Regions from separate parts of the Homo sapiens genome. Here regions 2, 3, 4, 5, 6 and 7 are each reported to be linked to region 1. Evidence: microRNA targets listed by miRTarBase, many of them from high-throughput screens and not tested one by one. Region 1 holds a microRNA gene; each other region holds the end of a gene's coding sequence. Distances are from middle to middle.
The links. The annotated mature microRNA hsa-miR-4252 reads GGCCACUGAGUCAGCACCA and lies in region 1 at 2,578-2,596, opposite strand. An mRNA with a match to its seed (bases 2 to 7 or 8) in the 3' UTR can be bound and repressed. Matches are read on the target gene's strand: a 7mer-m8 pairs with bases 2 to 8, a 7mer-A1 pairs with bases 2 to 7 and ends in A, and an 8mer does both.

Region 2: the mRNA of SPRYD4 is a reported target of hsa-miR-4252. Seed matches in the 3' UTR shown: 8mer at 2,490-2,497.
Region 3: miRTarBase lists CEP104 as a target of hsa-miR-4252. Seed matches in the 3' UTR shown: 7mer-m8 at 2,793-2,799.
Region 4: the mRNA of GPR157 is a reported target of hsa-miR-4252. Seed matches in the 3' UTR shown: 7mer-m8 at 1,140-1,146.
Region 5: miRTarBase lists WT1 as a target of hsa-miR-4252. The part of its 3' UTR that is shown has no 7-base or 8-base seed match.
Region 6: the mRNA of POLA2 is a reported target of hsa-miR-4252. Seed matches in the 3' UTR shown: 7mer-m8 at 2,292-2,298.
Region 7: miRTarBase lists IMPACT as a target of hsa-miR-4252. Seed matches in the 3' UTR shown: 8mer at 532-539.

What each region holds. Positions count from the first base shown.
Region 1 is chr1:6,427,267-6,431,470 of GRCh38, forward strand. It overlaps MIR4252 (microRNA 4252), which reads right to left and starts at 2,630; the gene lies at 2,568-2,630. ESPN (espin) reads left to right here. Exons shown (of 13, transcript NM_031475.3): 2 at 960-1,153. RefSeq lists an enhancer at 1,292-1,411.
Region 2 is chr12:56,468,672-56,472,875 of GRCh38, reverse strand. SPRYD4 (SPRY domain containing 4) reads right to left here. Exons shown (of 2, transcript NM_207344.4): 1 at 4,200-4,204; 2 at 1-3,837. The coding sequence ends at 3,299. It overlaps GLS2 (glutaminase 2), which reads left to right. Exons shown (of 18, transcript NM_013267.4): 15 at 125-186; 16 at 681-757; 17 at 1,040-1,103; 18 at 1,233-1,924. The coding sequence ends at 1,389. Among named protein-coding and RNA genes, the nearest start is that of SPRYD4, 2.2 kb to the right of the region's middle. RefSeq lists enhancers at 3,451-3,580, 4,001-4,050.
Region 3 is chr1:3,812,596-3,815,595 of GRCh38, reverse strand. CEP104 (centrosomal protein 104) reads left to right here. Exons shown (of 22, transcript NM_014704.4): 22 at 79-3,000. The coding sequence ends at 194. Among named protein-coding and RNA genes, the nearest start is that of LRRC47, 18 kb to the right of the region's middle.
Region 4 is chr1:9,101,594-9,104,593 of GRCh38, reverse strand. GPR157 (G protein-coupled receptor 157) reads left to right here. Exons shown (of 4, transcript NM_024980.5): 4 at 1-3,000. The coding sequence ends at 175. Among named protein-coding and RNA genes, the nearest start is that of GPR157, 26 kb to the left of the region's middle. RefSeq lists an enhancer at 1-495.
Region 5 is chr11:32,385,930-32,390,133 of GRCh38, reverse strand. It overlaps WT1 (WT1 transcription factor), which reads left to right. Exons shown (of 10, transcript NM_024426.6): 10 at 955-2,359. The coding sequence ends at 1,076. Among named protein-coding and RNA genes, the nearest start is that of WT1-AS, 47 kb to the left of the region's middle. RefSeq lists a cis regulatory region at 3,180-3,197 and enhancers at 2,982-3,239, 2,891-3,239, 3,117-3,261.
Region 6 is chr11:65,296,683-65,300,886 of GRCh38, reverse strand. It overlaps POLA2 (DNA polymerase alpha 2, accessory subunit), which reads right to left. Exons shown (of 18, transcript NM_002689.4): 18 at 2,202-3,767. The coding sequence ends at 3,618. All of the region lies in intron 2 of LOC105369344 (a long non-coding RNA gene), which reads left to right. Among named protein-coding and RNA genes, the nearest start is that of CDC42EP2, 16 kb to the left of the region's middle.
Region 7 is chr18:24,450,387-24,453,386 of GRCh38, reverse strand. It overlaps IMPACT (impact RWD domain protein), which reads right to left. Exons shown (of 11, transcript NM_018439.4): 11 at 1-2,608. The coding sequence ends at 2,540. Among named protein-coding and RNA genes, the nearest start is that of HRH4, 8.8 kb to the left of the region's middle.

The DNA of each region.
Region 1 (4,204 bases):
TGGGAGGTGGTTCTGTTCCCGAACCAGTACCCACTCTGCCAAGTGCGGCAGCCTCTGTGTCTAGATGTTCCCGGGAATTCTCCTCCCAGCACAGGTCCTGTAAGCACTCCCCTCCAGCCCCTTTCTCAGCAGACACACACAATGGGGTGTGCACTGATGACACATTCAGCAGTTCTGGGCCCAGACCTCTGGCCCCACCTGCTCTGAGGTCCCCGGGGGGAGTTTTGTCCAAGCCCTCCCAGAGGCCACCACTAGCCTGCACCTAGCACCCCTGGCTGACTGCCCCGGACCCGCCCACCAGTACCCAGCAACTTCCACCTCCACAGGGGCGAGAACACAGGCTGCTCCTGTGGCTGGGCACTGGCGAGTCTGCTGGGGGAGGGGCCGGTTTTCTGCACTGAGGTTGGGTTCCTGGAGGCGTACCAAGGTGGAGGTCTCTGTTCCCACGTGACACCGAGGAAGGGTGGAGAGATCGGGGGCAAGTGTTGGATGCAGGGGGTGACCCCCAATCCTGATGCTAGCTTGGTACAGCCCCACAGCCCCCCTTCCTGGCCCTGCTCAGCCCAGTAACCCTGTGTCACTCCTTCAGGCATTCCCTGAGTCCCTGGGAGTCAGGGCTGTGGCCCTGGGCCTGGTGCCAGTCTCCTGCCGTGACAACCAGGTGCCTGTCGTGTAGGCAGCTCGCAGTCAGGACCTGCAGCCTCTGAAAACCCTGCACGGTGCTGCCTATTGGCTACGGTTCAGAGAGGGCCAGTTAGTTGCCCAAGGACAGAAGCAGGACTCAAACCCAGGATCCGCTTGACCCAAAAAAAACATTGCTGAATGAGGCCTGGCCAATCCCTCCAGGGAAGACAGAGAGCACAGAGCTACCTTCCAGGCCTGTGGGAGTCTGGGAGTGGCCCAAGCCAGGGGCGGGGCAGCAACAGGCTTTAGGACTTGAACCAGCTCTCCTCCCACAGGACAAAGACAATTCTGGTGCCACAGTCTTGCATCTGGCTGCCCGCTTCGGCCACCCCGAGGTGGTGAACTGGCTCTTGCATCATGGCGGTGGGGACCCCACCGCGGCCACAGACATGGGCGCCCTGCCTATCCACTACGCTGCCGCCAAAGGAGACTTCCCCTCCCTGAGGCTTCTCGTCGAGCACTACCCTGAGTAAGATCACCCCTCTTAAGGGGTCCTCTGGGTGGGCTGGGCCAGGGCTTTGGGGGATGCCTGGGATTTTCCACGCCTCTCTGGCACTCCAGGGCAATGATCCCTCCAGTGGCCATCCTGGGGCCAGAGGGCCAGGCCAGAGAAATGGCTCCCACTCAACATGAAATTTTCCCCTCCTGGAAAACCCCTTCTGGGGCTGCCCCCAGAGCCCTGCAAGCAGGTGCTCCCAGCATCCTCAGCTGCCCGGCCGCACACAGCTGGACCTGGGAGGCTGGGCACACAGGCCAAGGTCACCTGTTCCCCTTGGGCTGCTTCTGCCGCAGGGGCTCTCTCTGGCTCAGGCTGTGCTCATTTGCAAGACTGTTCAGGATGGAGTCGGGGGCAGCAAGGGCAGGAGCGCCTCCTAGGCCCTAGTCAAACAGGCAGAAAGGGAACCCCATCAGTTACCAAGCAGTTAAGGGAGAAAGGCCCCTCCCAGACCCCCACCCCACCTCCTGGCCCCAGAGCCCCTGGCTGGAGGCCATCCAGAGAGCATCTTGTTATCTCCTGTGGCCCCTCAGCCCGTTCCTACTATCAAGGGAAGCATGGGGATCCCAAACCTCCTGGGGAGTGGGCTGGGAGCTCCCCTGGGTGGGGTGGGGGGTCACACAGAGCAGGGGGCATGTGTGAGTCTTGGGGAGGGAGGGAGGGAGGGAGGGACTCAGGTGTTAGGTGCGCCTGGGGAGGCAGGGATCCTGGGGAAAGCTGCCCAGGGCCTGTCTGAGAGGGTAGGGTGCCAGATGCCACAGGGGTCTGAGCGGGGAGTGGGGTGCTCTGATGGGTGACCCTCATTAGTCTAAGTGGGAGCCTGAGATGTAAATGTGAATGTGGACCCAGCCTCAGGACGAGAGCAGCTTTGGTATGAATTCACTGCTTCCAAACAAACTAGGATTTGGATCATGTCAAAGTCAGTGGGATTTAGACTAGGAGGGCCCCAGGGACCCTTGAGTAGAGGGTTCCAACTGGCTCCTGTCAGCACCTCTTGGAGGCTGTCCCAGATTCCTGAGTTAGACTCTCCAGGTTGGGGCGTGGGAGCCACACCTGGGACATGTCCCCACCCTCACGGCGGTGATTCTGATGCACCTGTCCCACCCCCTCACTTCAAGCAGAGGAGAAGGACAGGTCTTGAGAGGGGCAGGTGCCCCTGATGGCGGGACCAATATGGCCCAAGTGTGAACTGGAGGACGCTGAGCCCACCTTCTGCAAGTGCTGGTGGGGACCGCCAGCCCCTGAGCCTTCCTCACTGAGAAGCCGTGATCCCTCCGTGGGCTGGATCCCAGGTGTTAGGAAGACTGGCTGTGCTGTGGAACGCCCTCCAGGGCTCCGGGGCTGGGGGACCCTGACCCCCTCCCAGGCCATGCCAGGTGCTGTGTGTGATTGGGCGCTGGTGCTGACTCAGTGGCCAGATGGCCTGGACTGATGAGCTGCCAGCCCCCCAGGAGTCACCATGAATCTCAGGGAGGTGGACAGAGGGCTTGGGCTCCGTTCCCCACAGCAGCATGTGACTCGACTGATAAGAAGGTGTCTTTGTGTGGTTGCCAGGCTGGGCTCACGCAGGAGGGGCAGCTGGGAATTGGGGTTGGGGGCTGGGGTACCCACTTAACCTCCTACCTTGGGGGTAGGGATTCCTGCTCATCAAGGCTGTGGATATGAGGGCTGGGAGCTGGGGAGGGCAGAGGCTTGAGCTGCCCCAGGACACAGGGCCCCATCAGGGGACCCAGGTGGCCCAGCTTCATGCTCTTGTGAGCCTCTGGGGCCTGCTGTGAATCGTTGTGAATTATTCACAAGGCTCAGCTCTCTCGCTGGCGCGTGGGTGAGCACTGAGGGAGGAAGGGCTCCCGGACCTGCTGGTGGGAAACTCGATCCTGCCAGGGAGGCTGTGGGTGGCCACGGGACGAGGAAGTGACACGCTGCAGAGGAGCTGGAAGGCTGGACAGCCTCGGGGAAGCTCAGCTAATTCCAGGTCTATACCTTGGGGTGTTATAACAGAAAGCGCTTGAGATTGCAGGAATGTCCTGCACGTCCCCCACACCTCCCCGTCTGTCCCGTTCATGGGGCCAAGTCTTCCCAGAAGCAGAGGACTTGTCACACTGACCTCAGGGGCTGCTGCCACGCGGGACCCTCCCTCTGAGCCCTTGTAGAAAAGAGATCTCTCATACAAAATTAGCCAGGCGTGGTGGCGCATGCCTGTAATCCCAGCTACTCAGGAGGCTGAGGCAGGAGAATCGCTTGAACCCGGCAGACGGAGGTTGCGGTGAGCCAAGATTGAGCCATTGCACTCCAGCCTGGGCAACAAGAGTGAAACTCTGTCTCAAGGGGGAAAAAAAAAGAAAAAAAAAAGGCATCTCTCAGTTGGGAGGCATGGGGCTGGCAGGAGCCGGGCTGGGCAAGTCCCAGGCTCTGGGTCTCAGGGAGATTGAGTTGGGAGGATTGGCCCTCCCGGCAGGAGCTCCAGTGGCTGATGGAGGGGAACAAGGGGTCCAGATCCCTAATCAGGGCAGAGTGAGGAGGGGCAAAGAGCAGGTGGCCCCAAGGCCGGTGGCCATCCTCCCAGGAGGGTCCTGGAGCCCAGGAGCTCACTCTGTCCCCCTCACACCTGCTTCTGGCTGCCCCAGGGCCTGAGCAGCTGGGCAGGGCTGTGGGGGTCAGGGAGCTGGGGATCAGTTGGGACCCTGAGGCTTAAGCTTCCAGGCTGGGGAGTGAGGAGGCTCCAGGCTCTTCCCCTGGGCTCGTGGGTGCTGCCAGTCACAGCAAGCTGGAAAACCAGTTAGCCCAGAGATTTTATCAACTTCAGCAGGTGCCTCCTTCCCCGAAAGCCTCCCCTACCCCCGACCAGACTAGACTGGAATGGGATTGGAAAGTACCTGGGGCTGGGTACGGTGGCTCATGCCTGTAATCCCAGCACTTTGGGAGGCCGAGGCAGGTGGATCACCTGAGGTCAAGAGTTCAAAACCAGCCTGACCAACATGGTGAAACCCCGTCTCTACCAAAAATACAAAAATTAGCTGGGCA
Region 2 (4,204 bases), not on the chromosome of region 1:
GAGTAGCACATTCCATAACACTTCAGCAATACCCTTGGACTAAGCATCCATGGAGGAGGGTCACAGGGCACAGCTGGCATAGGTGAGTTCAATTAATGTCATGTGGGTATGATTTGTGTTCCAGAACAAGACTGTGGTCAACCTGTTATTTGCTGCCTATAGTGGCGATGTCTCAGCTCTTCGAAGGTAATGCTACTGTGACCAAATATACACAATAAAATACTCCTGGTCAGAGATTTTACTAGGAGGCAGCGTAACAAAATAGTTAAGTGCTTCAGCTTTGGAATTAGAATGGATATAGATTGCATTTAAATGAAATTTTTTTAAAAAAGGAGATTTTTTTTAAAAAAAGTAAACTGTCTGCTCTATGATAATTAATGTTAGCCATTGTTATTGAGTGTTAAGAGCAGTGTCCTAGGAAGTAGGTACCCTGCCTCAAATGGGCACTTACCACAGGTAGGCAGTGAGTGATATTTCTGGAAGGATCACATTCCCATCTCTCTAATATGAGTATAACAGTCTCATCTGGATATGGAAAAAAGATTATTCAGAGCCAACAAATCTGGCTATAGGCTGTTTCACTTTCTCTGAAACTCATCCAGTCTGACACCAGTTCACAAAGAACACCTGTGATTCCAGTCTGATCTAGGCAACTCTAGCTGCTTTCCCACTACCCTCAGGTTTGCCTTGTCAGCCATGGATATGGAACAGAAAGACTATGACTCGCGCACAGCTCTGCATGTTGCTGCAGCTGAAGGTACTGAAGGGTTAAGGAGGGGAGGAGGAGGGTAATCATAAGACCCTTTCTTTTTCACCAAAAGTACCTTCATTATATGTGCCCTCAAGGTTATAGGGGCAGCAACTAGTTTTATCTAGACACCCTTCGGTTTGCAGCTAGACTATGACTGAGTGCTGCAGGGTACAAAATGGGAAGAGGCCTTTTCCCCTCCCCTCTTGGTAAAGACTTCAGTGGCTAAGTGTCTGCACCAAAGGGTTCAAGACCTGCGCCTTCTCATTTTCCTTCTGCCCATATTCCTAGGACACATCGAAGTTGTTAAATTCCTGATCGAGGCTTGCAAAGTGAATCCTTTTGCCAAGGACAGGTGAGGAATAGGCTAAAAGTGGAGGAGGGTGGGCACAGCTTCTCCACCTACCCTCCAGCCACCATGCAAATATATACAACCACCACTCTCCACGTCTCCTTTGCCTGATCATATCATTATTCCTCTCAGGTGGGGCAACATTCCCCTGGATGATGCTGTGCAGTTCAACCATCTGGAGGTGGTCAAACTGCTTCAAGATTACCAGGACTCCTACACACTCTCTGAAACTCAGGCTGAGGCAGCAGCTGAGGCCCTGTCCAAAGAGAACTTAGAAAGCATGGTATGAGCACAGGTCATGGACAGCCCCTGCTCAAGAAAAAGCATGAGCTGGCCACACATGTAATCCATAACCACCAAAAATACTATGGAGAGCTACACTGCTTCAGTGGGGACCAAGCAGTCATTTGGTGACTTAGGCTAGTGCTTTCTATGGGAGTCAAAATACCCCATTCCCTCAGCAGACAGAGTACAGAGAAGGGCCTCAGAGGACACCTGCAGTACAGCTATCCAGAGAGACTGGGCTTCAAGGTACAGCCTAATGGCTTGCCCCACTCAAAACCATCCCAGCTCTTCACCCAGGTCTCCTCTTCCTCTCCCTGAAGAAACCATCATGAGAGAGATACTCTGGTGGAGGGACTCTAGCTACCATGCACATGTACATATCCACAGAATATGGGAAGTGGGAATGGCTATATACATGGCTTTAGTAGTCTGGAGAAATCTACTCCCCTTGGCCAGGACATGCTGCTGCTACTGCTAACAGCCAATTTTATAGACAGAGAAAGTATTTTGTGTTCAAATAAACTTTAATTACCAAATCATTTTTGCTAAACCCAGTCCTTCTTTCTTCCCTAGGGGTATCTAGCTTCATCACCATCATAGAAGGTAGAAAAAGATGGAATCACAGGGTCAAAGCACAGCTTCTCTACCTACCCTACCAAACAGTACATATTCACTTACCCCACCAGGTTTTTCTCAACTCCAAATACTGCTTTAGGTTAAGTGTATTCTGCTGCCAAGGGAAGCATAGGTTTGAGTCTAAACAGGCTCTGAAACAGATTGTGCAAAACCTCAGGCCTCCTTCCTTCCTCGGGAAGTTCCAACTGTGGCAGAAATGAAGATGGAACTTCTCAAGAATAAACAGTTTTGGCCGGGTGTGGTGGCTCACGCCTGAAATCCCAGCACTTTGGGAGGCCAAGGTGGGCTGATCACATGAGGCCAGGAGTTCGAGACCAGCCTGGCCAATATGGCAAAACCCCATCTCTACTAAAAATATAAAAATGAGACGGGCATGGTGGCACACACCTGTAATCCTAGCTACTCAGGAGGCTGAGGCACGAGAGTCGCTTGAACCCAAAAGGCAGAGTTTGCAGTGAGCCAAGATCATGCCACTGCACTCCAGCCTGGGTGACAGAGTGAGACTCTGTCTCAAAAATAAATAAATAGTTTCTAGCACTCATCCCCTAGATATCCCCCAAGTGTCTCTCTTCCCCTTTGGTCAAGGTTATAACTGGGATAATGATTATGACAGACTGGCTGGGTGTCAGAGGTACAGATTTAAGGTAGATGGACTCAGGGTAAGGATAGCTACAGCTGTGTGGGGCTGAAGGTCTGTGGCACTGAGCTACTGGGGAAGGAGGGCTCTGTTTTCATTTTGACACACTGAGTTAATAAAGCACTTACTGAGGGAGCCAGAGCCCAAACTCTAAATGTGCTGTAGAAAAAGGGCCAAGTCATTGACTGCACCACTCCTTCAGCCAGAGGTAGAAAGGATTTACTCTTCAGCCATCTGGTAGAGCCCCAAGAACAAGTTACATGTGGACAAAGGGAGGGAGAGGTATCATGGTGATTAATAAATTCAAACAAAGCTGAATGATAAGACCCCAGGATGGAATACAGTCTGAGAAAGGCCTGGGCAAAGGGAGGCAGAGGGACTGAAGGAAGCAGGTCAAGGAAGATACACCCATGGTAGCCTAGGAAATTGGCAGTAGTTGGTGGGTGGGGAAAAGGAGGGTTTGGCTGTATGCCTAGCTTTCACAAGGTAGGGGATGAGGAAGATGATCATGATATTGCACAGAGGACCCAACACTGAATTGTGGGAGCTAGAGGTTGCTTGAGGCAAAGTAAAAAGGCTTCGGACACTTTCAAAAGGAGGCTGGCCAAAGGCGTGATTAGGGACTCCAGTAATGGACATACTAGAGGCCCTCGGGCACCTCAAGCCCTGAATGGGTCAGCAGCTCCCCATCCCAGAGAGCAAAGGCAGGCACCACTGGACCCCGGAAATCTGTCTGTAGCGTGTGAACCACAGAGACCTGGCTCACATCCACCAGGCTCAGCTTCTGGGCCTCATACTCCAGCAACAGCCCCACCTTCTCTGGCTGCCCAATACCCTCAACTGGGGCTTTCTCGTTGGCCAACATGGTGTACCACTTGCGCTGGGCATAGGTGAACACCCAGGAACGATCATCAACACCAATGCAGCTATCCCGGGACATGTCCACATCTGCCACTCCTATCCGGAACTGCTGGGAGCGCTTCACTGTCACTTCCCAGTAGTGTCTGCCACTGGTGACCGCTGTGTCTGCCAGCACCACTGCCCACTCCCGGAAGCGCTCCACATTCAAGGCCACCTTGGTGGGCTCCAATCCCACCAAGCCATATTTGACACCCGTATCATCTCTGAAGAGTGCCAGGCTGCTGTGGGCGGTTTTTTCTTCCAGTTTGAAACTGACGCCTGCGGGCAGAGCAAAAAGACGGGATAATAACAGGGGCTAGAACCCTAGGGCTGGTGATATATTCAGATATGAGGCAGGCAGCCATGATACACGAGCAACTAGGGAAGAGTCAGAATGCCAAGCGGGCAAGAGAGTCGCGAGGTCGCTTTACTACGGATAGCTCACGGAGCTGAAAAACTCGGATTGAGTAAGTCCCGGAATTTAAAGAAACCAAATGGTATCACAGGTTTGGAATCTTAAGACCAAGGCAGGTGGGGAAGGAAAAGACCCGAGAGGGTTGGAGTTGCTTCTCGGAGTGGGGTCTGGGAATAATAGACGGCAGCCATTCTGGAGGTAAAAGAGTAAAAAGAGATAATCCTACCTCTC
Region 3 (3,000 bases), 2.6 Mb from region 1:
GTCTGTGGCCACAGGTTCTGCACCTGGTCCGTGGGTAGGAGTGCCCCTCCTAATGCAGGTCCTGTGCTTGCTCTGCAGGGAAAAGCTCAGCTGTGGCCGCATCAGGCCCCTTGGGGTCAAAGGCCGGAAGCAAGATCCCCACCCCGAAGGGCGGACTGAGCAAGAGCTCCAGCAGGACGTACGCCAAGCGCTGACGCGGCGCTCGGGCTCCTTGGTCTCTGTGAGGGATGGAGCGGGTCTCCTGATTCTACACCATCTCTCCAGAACTCTCTGGCCTTGGTGGCCCCATGCTCTGGCTGCTGTCCCCAGCTCCCCGCCGTGCACGCCTCTTACGCGTCTGTGCCGTCAGCTCTCGTGCAAACGATATGGATGCAGCTAACCAAAGATCCTGCGTGCAGTGCCAGGACCTGGCCGCACTGTACATTAAGCCTTCAGGGCTGTCTCAGGCCTTCCTTAGAATCAGAGAAGGAAGCGTCCTGTTTGGAGAGAGCCAGAGAGCACCGCCGGGAGGCGCTCGCGCAAGGCCACGGTCAGCACAGGCACGGTCCCGCTTTCCTTAGTGCTTGGAGCAATTTCCATAAAACATTCACCAGAAACCTTTTGCACATCGGTCTCTGCCACACGCAGTAGAATTTCCGCAGGGCTGTGGCTCGGCCAGCAGCGGTTCCAGGAGAGTGGCGGTGCGCACGGGCCTCCAGCCGTGCCTTCCCCCTGCAGGCCCCGTCTGCTGGGCCTGCTGCCCAGTGCACTCAGCCCCAGGTAGCAGAACTCACGTTCCCACTATAGCAAGAAATAAAGGCAAAAGAGAACATCTTTTTTTTAATCGTAGTTTTTTTGAGAATTGGTCCCACCTCAGCCGCACCTTGCTGGATGCTTCTCCAGTAGTGCTGCCCCTGTGACAGGCATCAGCTCCCTGCTGGAACTGAGGTAGACACAGGTGTGGGCCCTTCCCGTGCCTTTGCTCAGAGGCGCTTCACTTTCTCCACACTTTCGAATTCCTAAAGACATGTGGAGGAAGTCACTGTTAAATGAATTTCCACCTGATCACCCTGTGTTCACAGCAGGCAGAAGCCCACTGGTATGGGCCTCCCGCCCCTTCCACATCCATGTTGTGATTGGATCCATAAGTTTACTTTCTTCAAAGAGTTGATAGGATGTTTAAAACATCAACACATTGCTTAAAATGATGAAACCAACCCTCAAAAAACAGTCTCCTAACCAGCCATCCCCTCCTGTGGGAGTGAGCTGGGGGTTTTGTCCATAGCTTTGGTTGGGCCTGTGTCACATCCAGGCAGCCATGTGGAGGGAGTCAGGGTCTGTCTGGAAGCATCCACCCTCTCGCTGCCCCAGCCTGTGCTCCCAGGGGCCTAGGCTACCATGGACTGAAGGGCAGTCCCCTCCCACCTGGTGCCCAGGGCTTCTGCTTGCCTCGCTGATGTTGCATGGGCAGACTTCAAAAAGGATAGTTAGAAAGGTTTGGGTTGATGGAGTTTGCATTAATGCAATTAGTGTATAAATATGTTTTAATTGCCAACCGTGTGAAACAACAAAATATCTAAAAACTAATCCCGATTTGAACAATGTACTCCCTGGCCTGGATACATTAATAACCATAAATTTGCATGAATTAATCTCCACGTTTGGTAAACTAATACCTCTGGTTGACTGAGAATACTGAGTAAGATATAAGACCTACCAGGAACCTTTAAGAATATGCTCTGCTCAGTGTTGTTTGTCTGCTTGTTTGCGACGGAGTCTCACTGTGTCGCCCGGGCTGCAGTGCAATGGCGTGATCTTGGCTCACAGTAACCTCCACCTCCTGGGTTCAAGCAATTCTCCTGCCTCAGCCTCCCTAGTAGCTGGGATTACAGGTGCACACCACCATGCTCGGCTAATTTTTTCTATTTTTAGTAGAGATGGGGTTTCACCATGTTGGCCAGGCTGGTCTCGAACTCGTGACCTCATAATCTGCCCACCTTGGCCTCCCAAAGTGCTGGGATTACAGGCGTGAGCCACCACGCCCAGGTTAAATGTGTTTATAAGGAGAGAGGAGGCCAGGCGCGGTGGCTCACGCTGTAATCCCAGCACTTTGGGAGGCCGAGGCGGGCGGACCACCTGAGGTCAGGAGTTCGAGACCAGCCTGGCCAACATGGTGAAACCCCATCTCTACTAAAAATACAAAAATGAGCCAGGCGTGGTGGCCTGTAGTCCCAGCTACTTGAGAGGCTGAGGCAGGAAAATTGCTTGAACCCGGGAGGTGGAGGTTGCATTGAGCCCACATCATGCCATTGCACTCCAGCCCAGGCGACAGAGCGAGACTCCGTCTCGAAAAAAAAAAAAAGTATAAGGAGAGAAATAACTTTAAAGTTTATTAGACAAAACAGAGTATAGATGCCAAGATGTCTGTAAAATGATTTTTTCTGGTTTTAAAGAGATGTTGGCCATTATTTTCTAATCCATTTTTAAAATACAGACAAAACACTTCTTTAAACAGAACAAGAATGAGAAAAGTTAACCAAGGAATTATTCTTTTCTCACCAATCAACACTTTTAAGAAATATATATATATATATACACACATATACACATGCCTTCTATATATTGTAACTTAAAGAAAATACTTATAAAAAGACTTCATTTTTAGTGATTGACAAGCAAACGGGTTCATTTAAAACAGGTTCCTCTTTTGTTAGTTACAGGGGGTTTTTTTGTTGTTTTTTTGTTTTTGTTTTTGTTTTGCGGGGGTGGTGGGGTTTGAGACGGAGTCTTGCTCTGTTGCCTAGGCTGGAGTGCAGTGGCGCGATCTTGGCCCCCTGCAACCTCCGCCTCCCGGGTTCGAGCAATTCTCCTGCCTCAGCCTCCCGAGTAGCTGGGATTACAGGCGTGTGTCACCACGCCTGGCTAATTTTTTTGTATTTTTAGTAGAGACGGGGTTTCACCATATTGGCCAGGCTGGTCTCAAACTCCTGACCTTGTGATCCACCCACCTCGGCCTCCCAA
Region 4 (3,000 bases), 2.7 Mb from region 1:
GTTCGTCCTCTGCACCCGCGCCGTCCGAACTCGGCTCTTCTCTCTCTGTTGCTGCTGCTGCTCTTCTCAGCCTCCCACCAAGAGCCCGGCTGGCACTCCCAAGGCTCCCGCGCCTTCCAAGCCAGGAGAATCTCAGGAATCCCAAGGGACCCCAGGGGAACTTCCAAGCACCTGAGCTTTTGTCCTTTCTAGTTCTGTGCATAGGTGCTGCCTTCCTGGGGGTAGGCACTTCTGTGAGTCCCTGCTGCAGGGGCAGAAGTGCATGTCTGCTGCACCAGAAGCCCCCGCTATTGATGCTCTCGGCTCCATTGGGAGAGCAGCTGCCAACTCAGCTTCTTCTACCTCCTAGATCCTCAGGCAGCAAGTTCCACCGGTACCAGCGTCCTGGCCCACGGGTGGGCGTTCATCTGCATAAGGGTAGCAGTGAGATTCGGGAAGCCGGTGGCCCACAGCTGTGGCCACAGTGCCCCCACCCAGTGGACCTTGATGTCCTGAGGACCACACAGCACTGTTTACAATCTGAGGGACCCACATCTGTGCACCTATCCTCTGTGTGATTAAATAAGCTGTCAGGGGCCCTCAGAGATGTGTCCCCATCCACACATCATGGAGCAGATTCCCGGCTGGTCAGGGTGTTAAGATTCTCTGGAGAACCCGGCTTTCCTTGGAGACTTTGCTCAACAGAGGAACCAGTTGCCATTCACCAGGTTGAAGGTTCCCCTGAGGTTGCATGGTGACCACCAGGGGCAAGCACAGCCCGGCGCAGCTGCTCAGGGACAGCAGTCTCCCCGGGCCTCCTGGCCTCTCCCTCCATGGGCTGCTAACCCTTGCCGTAGCTTGGGTTTGAGTGTCAAGCACAGGCCAGAATCCACACTCCTGTCCCCACCTGTCAATCACTTCAGACACAGGTTCCCTCCTTCCAATTCCAAAGCTGGAACAAGGGCAGGAAGAGGCGTCTCAGGGAACCCCCGAAGACCCCACTGTCTCTCCAGCTCCTTTCTTAGAATCCTCCTCTTCTTGGGGAGACCAAAGGGGATGAGTAGGGAGGGGTTCTGGCTTATTTACTTCTTAGTTTAGTTTTTTGTAAGTAAAGTGGCCGGAGAGATGAGTAATCCAAATACGATTCCTCAGGCCGGGCACAGTGGCTCACACCTGTAACCCTAGCACTTTGGGAGGCCAAGGCAGGCAGATCACCTGAGGTCAGGAGTTCAAGACCAGCCTGGCCAACATGGTGAAACCCTGTCTCTACTAAAAATACAAAAATTAGCCAGGCATGGTGATGCACGTCTGTAATCCCAGGTCTTTGGGAGGCTGAGGCAGGAGAATCTCTTGAACCTGGGAGGCGGAGGTTGCGGTGAGCCAAGACCACACCATTGCACTCCAGCCTGGGCAACAAGAGTGAAACTCGGTCTCAAACAAACAAATACGATTTCTTCCTAAAGGTGAAGGTTTTAAGCTTCAGAGTCAGTTTTTTTTTTTTTTTTTTTTTAAAAAAGGAGCCTCATTCTGTCGCCCGGAGCTGATGTGGTGGTGCGTGCCTGTAGTCCCTACTACTCAGGAGGCTGAGACGGGAGGATCCCTTGAGCCCAGGGATTTGAGGCTTCATTGAACTGGGATGGCACCACTGCCACTCCAGCCTGGGCAACAGCAGGACCCTGTCTCAAAAAAAGAAAAAAACAAAGGATTCAAAAGGATTCAGCTGTTTTGTATTCAGCTGAGGTAAGTGGCGGCATGGAGCATGGAGCGATTATTTACATTTAAAAGAAAAGAATTGAAAGTAAGCACCTGTATCTCTATTTTTATTCTGTGGGTCTTCCACAAACGCTTTCGTCTTATTTCAGAAAACAGCTTCTGTGTTCAGTCACAGGAGCCATCGGCAAAGAATGGAAGTGGAAATGCTACCTCCAGGGTCTTGGTGAGAGAAAGTACAGCTTTACCTGATAGGTGATTTCCCTTGGAATCCATCAGAACTCGACAAAGCATGATTTTCTGAGCCTAGTAAAATGGTTCTGAATCAAAACCGAAGTCACGCTGTGCTGCCGATCCCTGTTTGACTCTCAAAACCAAAATCTGTATCAGGAAAGGAATAATCATTTAGCAGACTGAGTCCAAAATGCTCATTTTTGGTTTCCTGTGAAAATGGATTTCTTTTTGTCGCTTTCTTTTTTTTTTTTTTTTTTTTTGAGATGGAGTCTCACTCTATTGCCCAGGCTGGAGTGCAGTGGTGCAATTTTGACTCACTGCAACCACCGCCTCCCAGGTTCAAGCGATTCTCCTGCTTCCCAATCCCAAGCTGCTGGGATTACAGGCATGCGCCACCATGCTCGGCTAATTTTTTGTATTTTCAGTAGAGACGGGTTTTCACCATGTTGGCCAGGCTGGTCTCGAACTCCTGACCTCAGGTGATCCACCCACCTCAGCCTCCCAAAATGCTTCGATTGCAGGCATGAGCCACTGTGCCTGTCCAAGAAAACAGATTTCTTGATGGAAATTAGTGAGACAGACATCCCCTTAGGATTGAAAGAGAGCTCTGGGCTGCTCCAGGGAAAGCCACTTGGCAGAAATAGCCTCTGTAAGTGAATTCTGGATTCCCCTGAAGACGTTACAGCAAATCTCTGGGTATGTCTCTGGTAAAGACCCTCACTTGAGCTTCTAGAAGGGAGCGAAAATTCAGGAATTTGCTTGCTGCAAAAGAGAACATGATTAACAGGTAAAAGAGAAAAGACAATATAGGCCACAGAGGAATAGTGTTAGGATCAACCCTGCTCAGCAGGGGCCTCTGGAGCCCTCCCTGCTGTACCCAAGCCAGAGCTGAGACATGGCTCCCCAGATGGACTGGCTGTGGTCAGGAAAGGCCTGTAGAGGGAGCTGAGGGCTCAGAAAATACCTGCTCCGGGTGCCTGGGCTCAAGTTCTCATTCCATTTCTTTGATGCCACTGGCCACTGTATCTGCTTTTGTAAAAACCTCCAAAAAGTTATACATCAGGTATCTCTAGTCAG
Region 5 (4,204 bases), not on the chromosome of region 1:
GGCCTGGGAGGTGTGATACAGGGAAGAGCACGGGCTCTGGAATTCGACAGACCTGGAGATTTGAGTTCTGCCTGGATCTGCCCTCAATAGATGTCCTACCTCATCTGTAGAGTGGGGATAATAACGCTTCCCCTACGGGCAGTTGTAAGGAGTACATGAGGTTGTGTGTGTGCGTGTGTGAAGCCCAGCACAAGGCTTGGCATATGTTAAGCATCAAATAAATGGTAGTTATTCTCCCTAATGAGAATGAGGCTTGGAAAGAATGTCTGAGGGCTCTTTGGGTGGAGAAGCCTCAATCTTTTGGCAAGCTTATTAAAAATCTAAGAACCACGCCCCAACTAGAATCTTCCATATAACAGGATTATGCTCTCAGTAACACTTTAAGAGAAAAAAAAAAACAACACATAACATGTAAACTGGTATCAGTGATTTATTTTAAAGTATCCAGCCCATCCAGGGTATCTACACAGATAGAAGTGTTAAAAGCTTCAGTCACAGCTGAGATCCCTGGACAGTGATCACTCAGTAATACCCAGGGTAGATGACCCAGAGGCTTCTGCAGCCCAGTTCATCTCAGTTCCCAACTTACTCAACAAGGGGGAGAAATTTACACAGTTCACAAAACATTCTATCAGCAGAGACTGAAACAAACGTTTTTCCCCTTAATTATGAATTGCTCAGACATTTCCCCCAACTTGACTCATTCTTTATCTCCCACTTTCCAAGTTTTCTGACCTAAGAATATAACTTTTTACAATATTTCGATCCTTAAAGCCCCAAGAGGTGCTGCTGTTTCAAGGCTGCCTGGGAAATGAGCTCAGTTGGTTAGCTCAGGGACAGAATGATGGGAAATTCAGAGTGGGTGCCTTGTGATGACTTCACTCGGGCCTTGATAGTTGAACTTGTGCCTGTCTCTTTGTTGCAAGTGTCTCTGACTGGCAATTGTGTCAACAGGTGAAAAGCCCTTCAGCTGTCGGTGGCCAAGTTGTCAGAAAAAGTTTGCCCGGTCAGATGAATTAGTCCGCCATCACAACATGCATCAGAGAAACATGACCAAACTCCAGCTGGCGCTTTGAGGGGTCTCCCTCGGGGACCGTTCAGTGTCCCAGGCAGCACAGTGTGTGAACTGCTTTCAAGTCTGACTCTCCACTCCTCCTCACTAAAAAGGAAACTTCAGTTGATCTTCTTCATCCAACTTCCAAGACAAGATACCGGTGCTTCTGGAAACTACCAGGTGTGCCTGGAAGAGTTGGTCTCTGCCCTGCCTACTTTTAGTTGACTCACAGGCCCTGGAGAAGCAGCTAACAATGTCTGGTTAGTTAAAAGCCCATTGCCATTTGGTGTGGATTTTCTACTGTAAGAAGAGCCATAGCTGATCATGTCCCCCTGACCCTTCCCTTCTTTTTTTATGCTCGTTTTCGCTGGGGATGGAATTATTGTACCATTTTCTATCATGGAATATTTATAGGCCAGGGCATGTGTATGTGTCTGCTAATGTAAACTTTGTCATGGTTTCCATTTACTAACAGCAACAGCAAGAAATAAATCAGAGAGCAAGGCATCGGGGGTGAATCTTGTCTAACATTCCCGAGGTCAGCCAGGCTGCTAACCTGGAAAGCAGGATGTAGTTCTGCCAGGCAACTTTTAAAGCTCATGCATTTCAAGCAGCTGAAGAAAAAATCAGAACTAACCAGTACCTCTGTATAGAAATCTAAAAGAATTTTACCATTCAGTTAATTCAATGTGAACACTGGCACACTGCTCTTAAGAAACTATGAAGATCTGAGATTTTTTTGTGTATGTTTTTGACTCTTTTGAGTGGTAATCATATGTGTCTTTATAGATGTACATACCTCCTTGCACAAATGGAGGGGAATTCATTTTCATCACTGGGAGTGTCCTTAGTGTATAAAAACCATGCTGGTATATGGCTTCAAGTTGTAAAAATGAAAGTGACTTTAAAAGAAAATAGGGGATGGTCCAGGATCTCCACTGATAAGACTGTTTTTAAGTAACTTAAGGACCTTTGGGTCTACAAGTATATGTGAAAAAAATGAGACTTACTGGGTGAGGAAATCCATTGTTTAAAGATGGTCGTGTGTGTGTGTGTGTGTGTGTGTGTGTGTGTGTTGTGTTGTGTTTTGTTTTTTAAGGGAGGGAATTTATTATTTACCGTTGCTTGAAATTACTGTGTAAATATATGTCTGATAATGATTTGCTCTTTGACAACTAAAATTAGGACTGTATAAGTACTAGATGCATCACTGGGTGTTGATCTTACAAGATATTGATGATAACACTTAAAATTGTAACCTGCATTTTTCACTTTGCTCTCAATTAAAGTCTATTCAAAAGGAAAGTGGCAAGATTCCATCAGCTGTATTGTGTTCAAATCTCAAGGCCACTGAGCCTCTTTTAAACAGGTAAGAGAAGACGCCACCGACATCGACGGCTACTAGTGAGCCTATCCAGGTCCTGACCACAATTTATTTCTCTCTGTCAAACTTCAGGAGGGACTTATATGTCCTAGAAGCAACAGAGAATATCTTCACCTTGTGTTACAGAGTGATTGTGCTCATGCTGTGGTTGAATGGGGTTTGTGGATGATGTGGTGATTATGTTTTAAGGTTTTAAGGTTTATTTTAAGCAGATTGTCATTGCATCCCATCATCCCAGATCAGCAAAAGAAAATAGAGAGATGTTAATGACAACTAGTCCTTTTGAAAAGTTCAGATACATCACTGGGAGGGCATAGGCTGAACACCTAGTACAATTGAATTTACAGCTGTACTTGCTATAAATCAGCTCAGCAGATTGAAAACTGCTCAGCCTTTCCAGGGCAACTGAGTGTGAAAGCAAAGATCTATATTATCTATAAACTATAAACTCTCTTTCTGTTCTGGTGTATGGTTTTTGAATTGTAAATAAGGAGATTAATTTGGTGCAGCCCCTCTCAGCTCCATTATCTTGGGGCTTGCATGCATTCCGGGTTTTATTTCTTCATTTAAAATGCGTCTCAAACAGATGGAAGCCTAGCTATGGAGACTGTTTTACATTGAAGTGCAGCTCAAAGTTTGGGCAGCCTAAAAGTCAGGTCCAGAGGCCCCTCTTATTTTGCATCTGGCTCTTGCATCACTGTTAATTATAGCGAGTGTGGTGACTCATTTATATCAGCCGTTTTTATCTTTTCCTGCCAGAAGACAGCATTTCTCTGGAGAAGCTCAGGACAAGCATGGCAAACGTCAGCGAGTCGGAAAGAGCCAGGTCTTACAACAAAAGTACAGCCACATTGATTGTTTCAACTGCACAGGGAAGAACAGAGATTCTCAGACGACCCTGTAAGTTTAGCTTGCAGTTAAGATCATGGGCTATGGAAAGCAGACCAACCTGGCTTCAAATTCTAAATCTCCAGTTTCTTTATCTGTGAAGTGGGGACAAAAGTCCCTGCCTGATAGGATCATAGTGAGGTTTAATTTTTTTTAAGTATGAAAACATCAAGTACATAGCAAATGCTCATAAACATTATCTAGGAAAACTATTACCCAAGAAATTACTGGCTCATTTCTTTTACCTCTCCCTCCTCCAGGCATCCTCTTGCAGTATCTAGCCATCCTCACAGGTCAGCTCTGAAAAATGGTAAAAAGTCCATTGCCCTCTACCCCAACCCAGAGTTAATAACTTTTGCAGCAATTGAGCTTCTTGCCAGCCTTGCCACAGAGACCATCTCTGCTTGCTCTGTGTCTTCTGTAAAGCACTTGTGAACACTGTATGTGTTTCTGAGACCCACTGTGTTACTCTTCCATAGACTGTGAGGAGTTAGTGGGTGAAAGTAGGTCAGTGGGAGCTCCCTGTGGCCCAGGCTTGAGGCGGTGTTGGGTGCAGTGGTCAGCATGTGCACTTTTCCATCTTGCTTTATTTACTGCAGCACCTGGTTTAGCATATGACTCAGTACTCCCAGCTCCCCAACTCCCTCTGCTGGATCTTCCCAGACTCTTCCAGTCACCCGGAGCCCTCTCTTCTCTGAACCTCTGTAGCATTTAGAGTACCTTTAACATTAAATAGTACTTTAGATCAGAATAGTGCTTTCCCATCCTTTTTGATCTTTAGGACAATCCTGTAAGGTAGACAGGGCAAGTGTTATTCCCACTTTACAGATGAGGAAATTGAGGCTCAGTAGAAGTAAGTGGCTAAGGCAGCTCTTAGT
Region 6 (4,204 bases), not on the chromosome of region 1:
TGACAGGCCGGGTGCAGTGGCTTACGCCTGTAATCCCAACACTCTGGGAAGCCGAGGTGGGCGGATCACTTGAGGTCAGTGGTTCGAGACCAGCCTGGGCAACATGGTGAAACCCTGTCTCTACTAAAAATACAAAAATCAGTTGGCACGGTGGCGGGTGCCTGTAATCCCAGCTACACAGGAGGCTGAGGCAGGAGAATCGTTTGAACCCGGAAGGTGGAGGTTGCAGTGAGCAGAGATCGTGCCACTGCACTCCAGCCTGAGTGACAGAGTGAGACTCTGTCTCAGAAACAAACAAAAAAACAAACAAACAAAACCTGACAGAAAAGAGCATGGGCCAGGCACGGTGTCTCATGCCTGTAATCCCAACACTTTGGGAGGCCGAGGCGAGTGGATCACCTGAGGTCAGGAGTTCTAGACACACCTGTAATCTCAGCTACTCAGGAGGCTGAACCCTGAGGTCAGGAGTTTGAGACCAGCCTGGCCAATATGGCAAAACCCTGTCTTTACTAAAAATATAAAAATCAGCCAGGTGTGGTGGCAGGCACCTGTAATCCCAGCTACTCAGGAGGCTGAGGCAGGATAATCCATCGAACCCGGGAGGCAGAGGTTGCAGTGAGCCGAGATTGCGCTACTGCACTCCAGCCTGGGTGACAAGAGCAAAACTCTGTCTCAAAAAAAAAGAGGATGTATTGTATGATTCCATTTATACAAAATGCCCAAAATAGGCAAATCTACAGAAAAGAAATTAGATTAATGATTGCCAGGGGATGGGATTAGACTGCTAATGGGTGCAGGGTTTCCTTTGGGGTGATGAAAATACTCTGGAATTAGATGGTGGCGAGGCCTGCACAACACCATGAACATACTAAAAACCACTGAATCATACACTTTAAAATGGGCATGGTGGCTCACGCCTGTAATCCCAGCACTCTAGGATGCTGAGGCGGGTGGATCACTTGAGGTCAGGAGTTTGAGACCAGTCTGGCCAAGATGGCGAAACCCCGTCTCTACTGAAAATACAAAAATTAGCTGGGCGTGGTGGCAGGCGCCTGTAATCTCAGCTACTCGGGAGGTTGAGGCAGGAGAATCGCTTGAACCTGGGAGGTGGAGGTTGCAGTGAGCCGAGATCGCGCCACTGCACTCCAGCCCGGACGACAGAGTGAGACTCTGTCGGGGTGGGGTTGGTGGAGTGAGAAATCAGCGCAGATGGCTACTCCCAGCAGTAGTGAAGCAGCAAGGCCAGGTTGAGCTGGGCCGGGTGCCCTGAGGTCAAAGGAAAGGAAACCCCAAGCCCCAGTGGCTGCAGAAGGCAGAGCTGGATGGAGGATCCGCGCCATGGCCCTGCCGGCCCCCAACCTTGGGTGCCCCTCGAGGCCCTAATTCCCTCGCTGCATTCTTGGCACCCACTTGGGTTCCCAGGAACAGCAACTAGGAGTGGCTTCTGTTCCCTCAGCAGCTCTCCCTCTCCCTCTCAGAGACTGGAACCCTAAAGGGAAGCCACGAGGCGGGTAAGGGAGGGCGGCTCCTTCTGCCAGGGCAGAGGCAGGGCAAGGGCATGGGCATGGGAGGCAAATCCTGGCAAGAGCTCGGGACTATTTCTTCAGGACCGTCTAGTTGGTGTCTCAAGGGCAGGGGCCATGACCAGATCAGGGAGAGGCCACCAAAGGGGGCTGAGGCAGACGGGCCTGACCTCCTGGGCACCCTCCCACCCTCCGTCACTGACACGCCCCCAGAGCCTGCTTGAGAATACCTGGGATGACAGATGCCTGGGGAAACTGGTGACACAGCTGAAGTGGGGTCTAGGGACGGTCAGCCAGCAGTCACTTGGCACCTTCCTGACAAGAGCAAAAAGGAACTGTCTGGTGGCAGAGGCACGCCTGCCAGACCTGTCTGCTCTGGTGTTAGCATCCCGCTTTCTCTTTGTCTGACTCTTAAATGCCTGCTCCGGCCCTCCCGGCCCTCCCAGATCATTTCCAACAGTCACACGACTGGTATCCAGGCAACCATTGCCTGGGCTCCCAAAATTCCACATCCGGAGGCTGACAAGTCATGGTGCCCCCGTGGAACACAGCTGGCTGCTTCATGTGTGGAGGAGCTGGGGGAGAACGGAAAAATCCACTCCCCACGCAGGGATGAGTTTCTAATTCTTGGCCTCAGAGGAGGTGCCTATAAAACTAATGAAATAAAACAGCTGCTCCTTGTGTTTAAAGGAAGACCTTTTACTGTACCCTGGTCAGGTCTGGGGCTCGATTCCATTTCACCGTCAGAAAGGTGAGAGGCAAAAGTTGGCCACTGTTAGGTCATCTATTTATCTCGGAGTCAAGGCATAGACACCAGCAGCTTGCTGCCCCCTTGCCCACTTCCCTGCCCTGACAGCTGGGGTTTGCCGGTCTTGGCTCTGGCATGTGAGGCAGGACAGCCTGCCAGCTTAGGGCAGGAAGCCACTCCACGTCTGGCCAGTGACAGCTTTTCCCCAGATGCCAGGACATAGGGGCATGGGACGTGCTGTGAACCCTGGAAGGCCTGACCCTGTCTGAGTGTTCTGGGCTGCAGGCAAGCCCTGGCTACTGCGCGACTTGGCAAAGCAGCTGCCACCAGGACTCCAGCTTTGGAACAGCCCAGCGAGGCGGCCCCCTCCAGATGGAGAGGTCAGGCTGGGACCACAGCATGCATGTGAGGAACTGCGCAGGGAGGCCCAGGCATGCAGCCAGTTGCTTGCTCTGCAGCCCAGCTCTAGGGCCCACCCAGTGCACCTCTGCAGCATAGAGGTCACTGGGGCCTTTGGGGGATGAGGAGTGGGGCTGAGAGTTACCCACTGGACAGGACTGGGGCTGGATAGAAACCCAGTGTGACTGACACTCTGCCTTCTCTGGACATAGGTCAAATAGGCAACATTCTTTGTCTACTACCAGGATAAAGAAAATAGAAGAAAGGGGCCGGGCGCGGTGGCTCACGCCTGTAATCCCAGCACTTTGGGAGGCTGAGGCGGACAGATCACAAGGTCAGGAGATCGAGACCATCCTGGCTAACATGGTGAAACCCCATCTCCACTAAAAATACAAAAAATTAGCCAGGCGTGGTGGTGGGTGCCTGTAGTCCCAGCTACTCAGGAGGCTGAGGCAGGAGAATGGCATGAACCCGGGCGGCAGAGCTTGCAGTGAGCCGAGATCTCACCACTGCACTCCAGCCTGGGCGACAGATCGAGACTCCGTCTAAAAACAAAATAAATAAATAAAAGAAAATAGAAGAAAGGTCAAACTCAGAAGTCACACTCAGAATTTAATTTCTCCAAAAGTTGTTTCTGTGTTTGATTCATGTAGAAAATCACAAAGCCTTCTCGCCTTTTCTGAGTGGGCGGGATCCACAGCTGGCTTACTTCTGGACACGGAGCATGGACTGAGAAGCAAGAGCTTCCTTCCAGGAGAGGCACCACTCAGAGGCAGGCCCGGCTGCACAAGTCCTCCCTGCTGGGCCTGGTCACTGCAGCTGCCCCTCCCTGGCTGGCTCCTCTCTCCTTTCCCACCCAACTGTTCACCTTGTCACAGGGCTATGTCTTGGCTCTTGGCTAAGACTTTAAGGGCCCACACAGCAGAGAACAGCAGAGGACAGAAGCCTCAGATCCTGACGACCTGCACAGCAATGCATGGGCTCTGCCTCTCTGCCCCGTCCGCTGCCGGCCTCCTAAGGTAGAGTCGGGCGAAGGTGCCTCCCACCTGCCCTTTGGTAAGGCGCCCAGGGTTCACACAGACACAGCCGAGGACATCCTGGGGAGGAGAGGAGAGGTGACAGGTTTGGAGAGCCTCAACTAACTGGGAACCAATGTGAAAAAGAAGTGCCATCACATGGCTGGACCCCAAAGAGGGTTTTAGAAAATGGAAACGAAGGCAACCAAATCACCAGACACATTTTCAGTCACTTTTTTTTTTTTTTTTTTTGAGATGGAGTCTCGCTCTGTTGCCCAGGCTGGAGTGCAGTGGTGAGATCTCAGCTCACTGCAGCCTCGACCTCCCGGGTTCCAGCGATTCTCCTGCCTCAGGCTCCCAGGTAGCTTGGATTACAGGCACCCACACCACCATGCCTGGCTAATTTTTGTATTTTTAGTAGAGATGGGGTTTTACCATGTTGGCCAGGCTGGTCTCAGACTCCTGACCTCAGGTGATCCACCCACCTCGGCCTCCCAAAGTGCTGGGATTACAATTGT
Region 7 (3,000 bases), not on the chromosome of region 1:
GAAAAAAATAATATAAGGATGTACATACCAAATATTAATAATAATGGCTATCTCTGGATAGTGGAATCAGAGGGATTATGTAATTTTCCCGATAAATTTTCCTGTCCTCCAAACAGCATCCGCTTCATACTATTATTTCTTGGTTGTAATTAGTTTGATATAATTCTCTTCAGAAAGGCTCTGTTTCACTATATATACCTCAAAGCATACTTTTGATGCAGCTTCTGCAATTCCCATCTAAAAAGTAGATAACACTTGCTCTTATATTCTGGCATATGAAGACTATTTGTAATTAACACACTATAAAATATGTCAAAGCAGGCCAGGCATGGTGGCTCACACCTGTAATTCCAAAACCTTGGCAGGAAGATCGATTGAGGCCAGGAGCTCAAGACGAGCCTGGGCAACATAGAAAGACCCTATCTTTACAAAAAAAACTTTAAAAATTAGCCAGGTGTAATAGCACATGCCTGTCTGTAATCCCAGCTACTTGGCAGGCTGGAAGGTCAAGGCTGCAGTGAGCCATGATCATGCCACTGCACTCCAGCCTAGGTGACAGAGCAAGAACTCATCTCTAAAAAAAAATTTTTAAATAAAGCAAAATATGCCACAGCATAGATCTGATTGTAGAAAATTATTATATGGAGAACTGAAAAATCTCCTAATCAAGACAAAAATTTTAAATAGAGGAAAAAAATACTATCTATCATTAGTTCAAGTTTCCATTAAGAGTAGAGTGTGAAGTAGCTCCAAGTTCAGAGCTGGAGAATTTTGCATCTCTCCCTCTTACCAGCCAATTGACTTTAGGTAAAGAATACTAGAGTTTTTTAGTTAGTAAAATATAGTTAATAATTCTGTATAAAGGAGCAAAAGTAAGTTTCTCATTGTTTCCTATCTCCCTTCATAGGTTTGACATGTTGAAATTGTGAAATTATTTAATGTTAATAGTTTTTAACTTCTTTAATTATGTAAAATAATTAATTTTTAAATTATTTTAACAGTTAAAACACAAAGCATACTTTTCATGGAACCAAGTGTTCCAAACACAAAAAGGTCATTCTCTGATGGCTCCTGATAACATACAACATAAAATATAGTTATAACAAATATAATTTAGAATTTATATTTCAGAATCCATCCTGGTGTAAAGCTATTTACTATAACCTTACTAAAAATACCAACGGTAAGGATGTTGGATCTTTTAAAGGTAAAACATCAGAGAAAAGAGAAAAAGACCTGTTTGTCCAATTCTCTGTGCTTTCCATGCTCTAGCACCATCCCAAAGTTGCCTCCTAACTTCTGTTCCCTCCCTGGGAAGGGAAGTCCAGGCAAATCTGTGATCAGTTAATAACTTTTAACAATTGTTTGCCATTACATCTGAAAGTGAACAGTTAATCACTTATTGTTATATCTCAAAGGTAAATTTCACTATCTAAATGCCTAGAGGTAACTGGAAGATGAAAGATACATAAAGGTTTGATGAATAGAGGGGAAAAAATGGGGGGGAGGGTTGTTTCTGTTTTTCCAATGAAAAGGTTTGCTCCTTCTCTCTGCAAAATCTTGGAACTGAGAAAGCCGTCTGGAGTGCAGATGGAAAGCATGCATCAAATTGATGTAACTACACAACATACTCCTGCCCTACACCAGGTTCATTCTGCCACCTCTATCCCACTCTACGAATGTCCCATTTGCCACAGCCTAACTTCTATCATAGTTCTAATTCCTCAGTGAAGATCACAAGAAAGGTACTTCCAGGTTGTTAAAAGAAACGAGAATGTTACACCAACACATTTCTGGGGTGGAAGGAGACTACTGACACTCCATATTTATTGCTTACATTACAAGAATTAAACAAAAAAAGCAGACTAGAAAATCACTTTCTGTAATTTCACAATCACCAATTTGCAACAGAAACTGAAGCATAATATTTATGCTAACAAATATGTTGGATGAATTATCACCTCAGCACATAACTGCAGATGGATACTCCTGGATTTTCACTTAATCCATTACTCAATGATGAACACTATAAAATGAAAGGTGACATACTTATGAACTAAAATCACAAGAAGAAACTCTCCAAGATCAATCTTAAATGAGCTCCTATTCCAATAAGCCATAAAGAGCAGTAAAAGGCAATATTCATTTAACAGTACAAGAATCTCGATGACAAGAAATCAGGTATTTATATTCCTCTAGAGACATTTCTTCTCCACCTAACAAAGGCACTTGACATGTACTGAAATGGACAGTTAATTCAGGTACTGCCCTGGGCAACTGTTACCTTGCTAAAATTAGATGAAGTGGTGATTAAGTTCAAATTAGTTCTCCCAAATAAGCCTGAAACACACATGAATAGATCATAAGTTCTCTATTTTTGGCAGATGATATAACCAAGAAGAAAAGCTAATGTTGGTATCCATGCTGAACTGGCTGACTTAAGCAGTCAAGGATACTCTCTCTGCACAATATATTCCTTGATGACTATGGAATGTATATATAATTATAGGCAAATTAACCTTTCCTATAGTTTCAGGTATTAATGTTCATTCCTCTTCTTGTCTTTTCTTACTTTTTTGTTCTTTCCCAAAGCCTTAGATGACTCCTCCTGAAAAAGACACAAATCAGTGCAGCATCTCTCCATTTACATAAAGATGAAATCTTCAATCTAATCACTTAGAATATATTTACACATATATATTCCACATATATTCATACATATATGTATGTATGTATATATGTTACAGTGAGGGTATAATCACTTTTATATGTGTCATTTCTGTGTTTTAAAGGGTACTTTCACTTATAGGCTAATATTTTTTAAACAATCAAGAATAATCAAGGAAACCTTATTTATCTAGTGGATTTATGTTTGAATAATTTCAAAATTATTTCATCTATTGCCCCACTTTCCCAAGGCAGTAAAATTTAAATAAGGCAGATATGAACATACCTAAAATATAAAACAAAATAAACTCAAAGTATAAAGGAAGAAAGCAT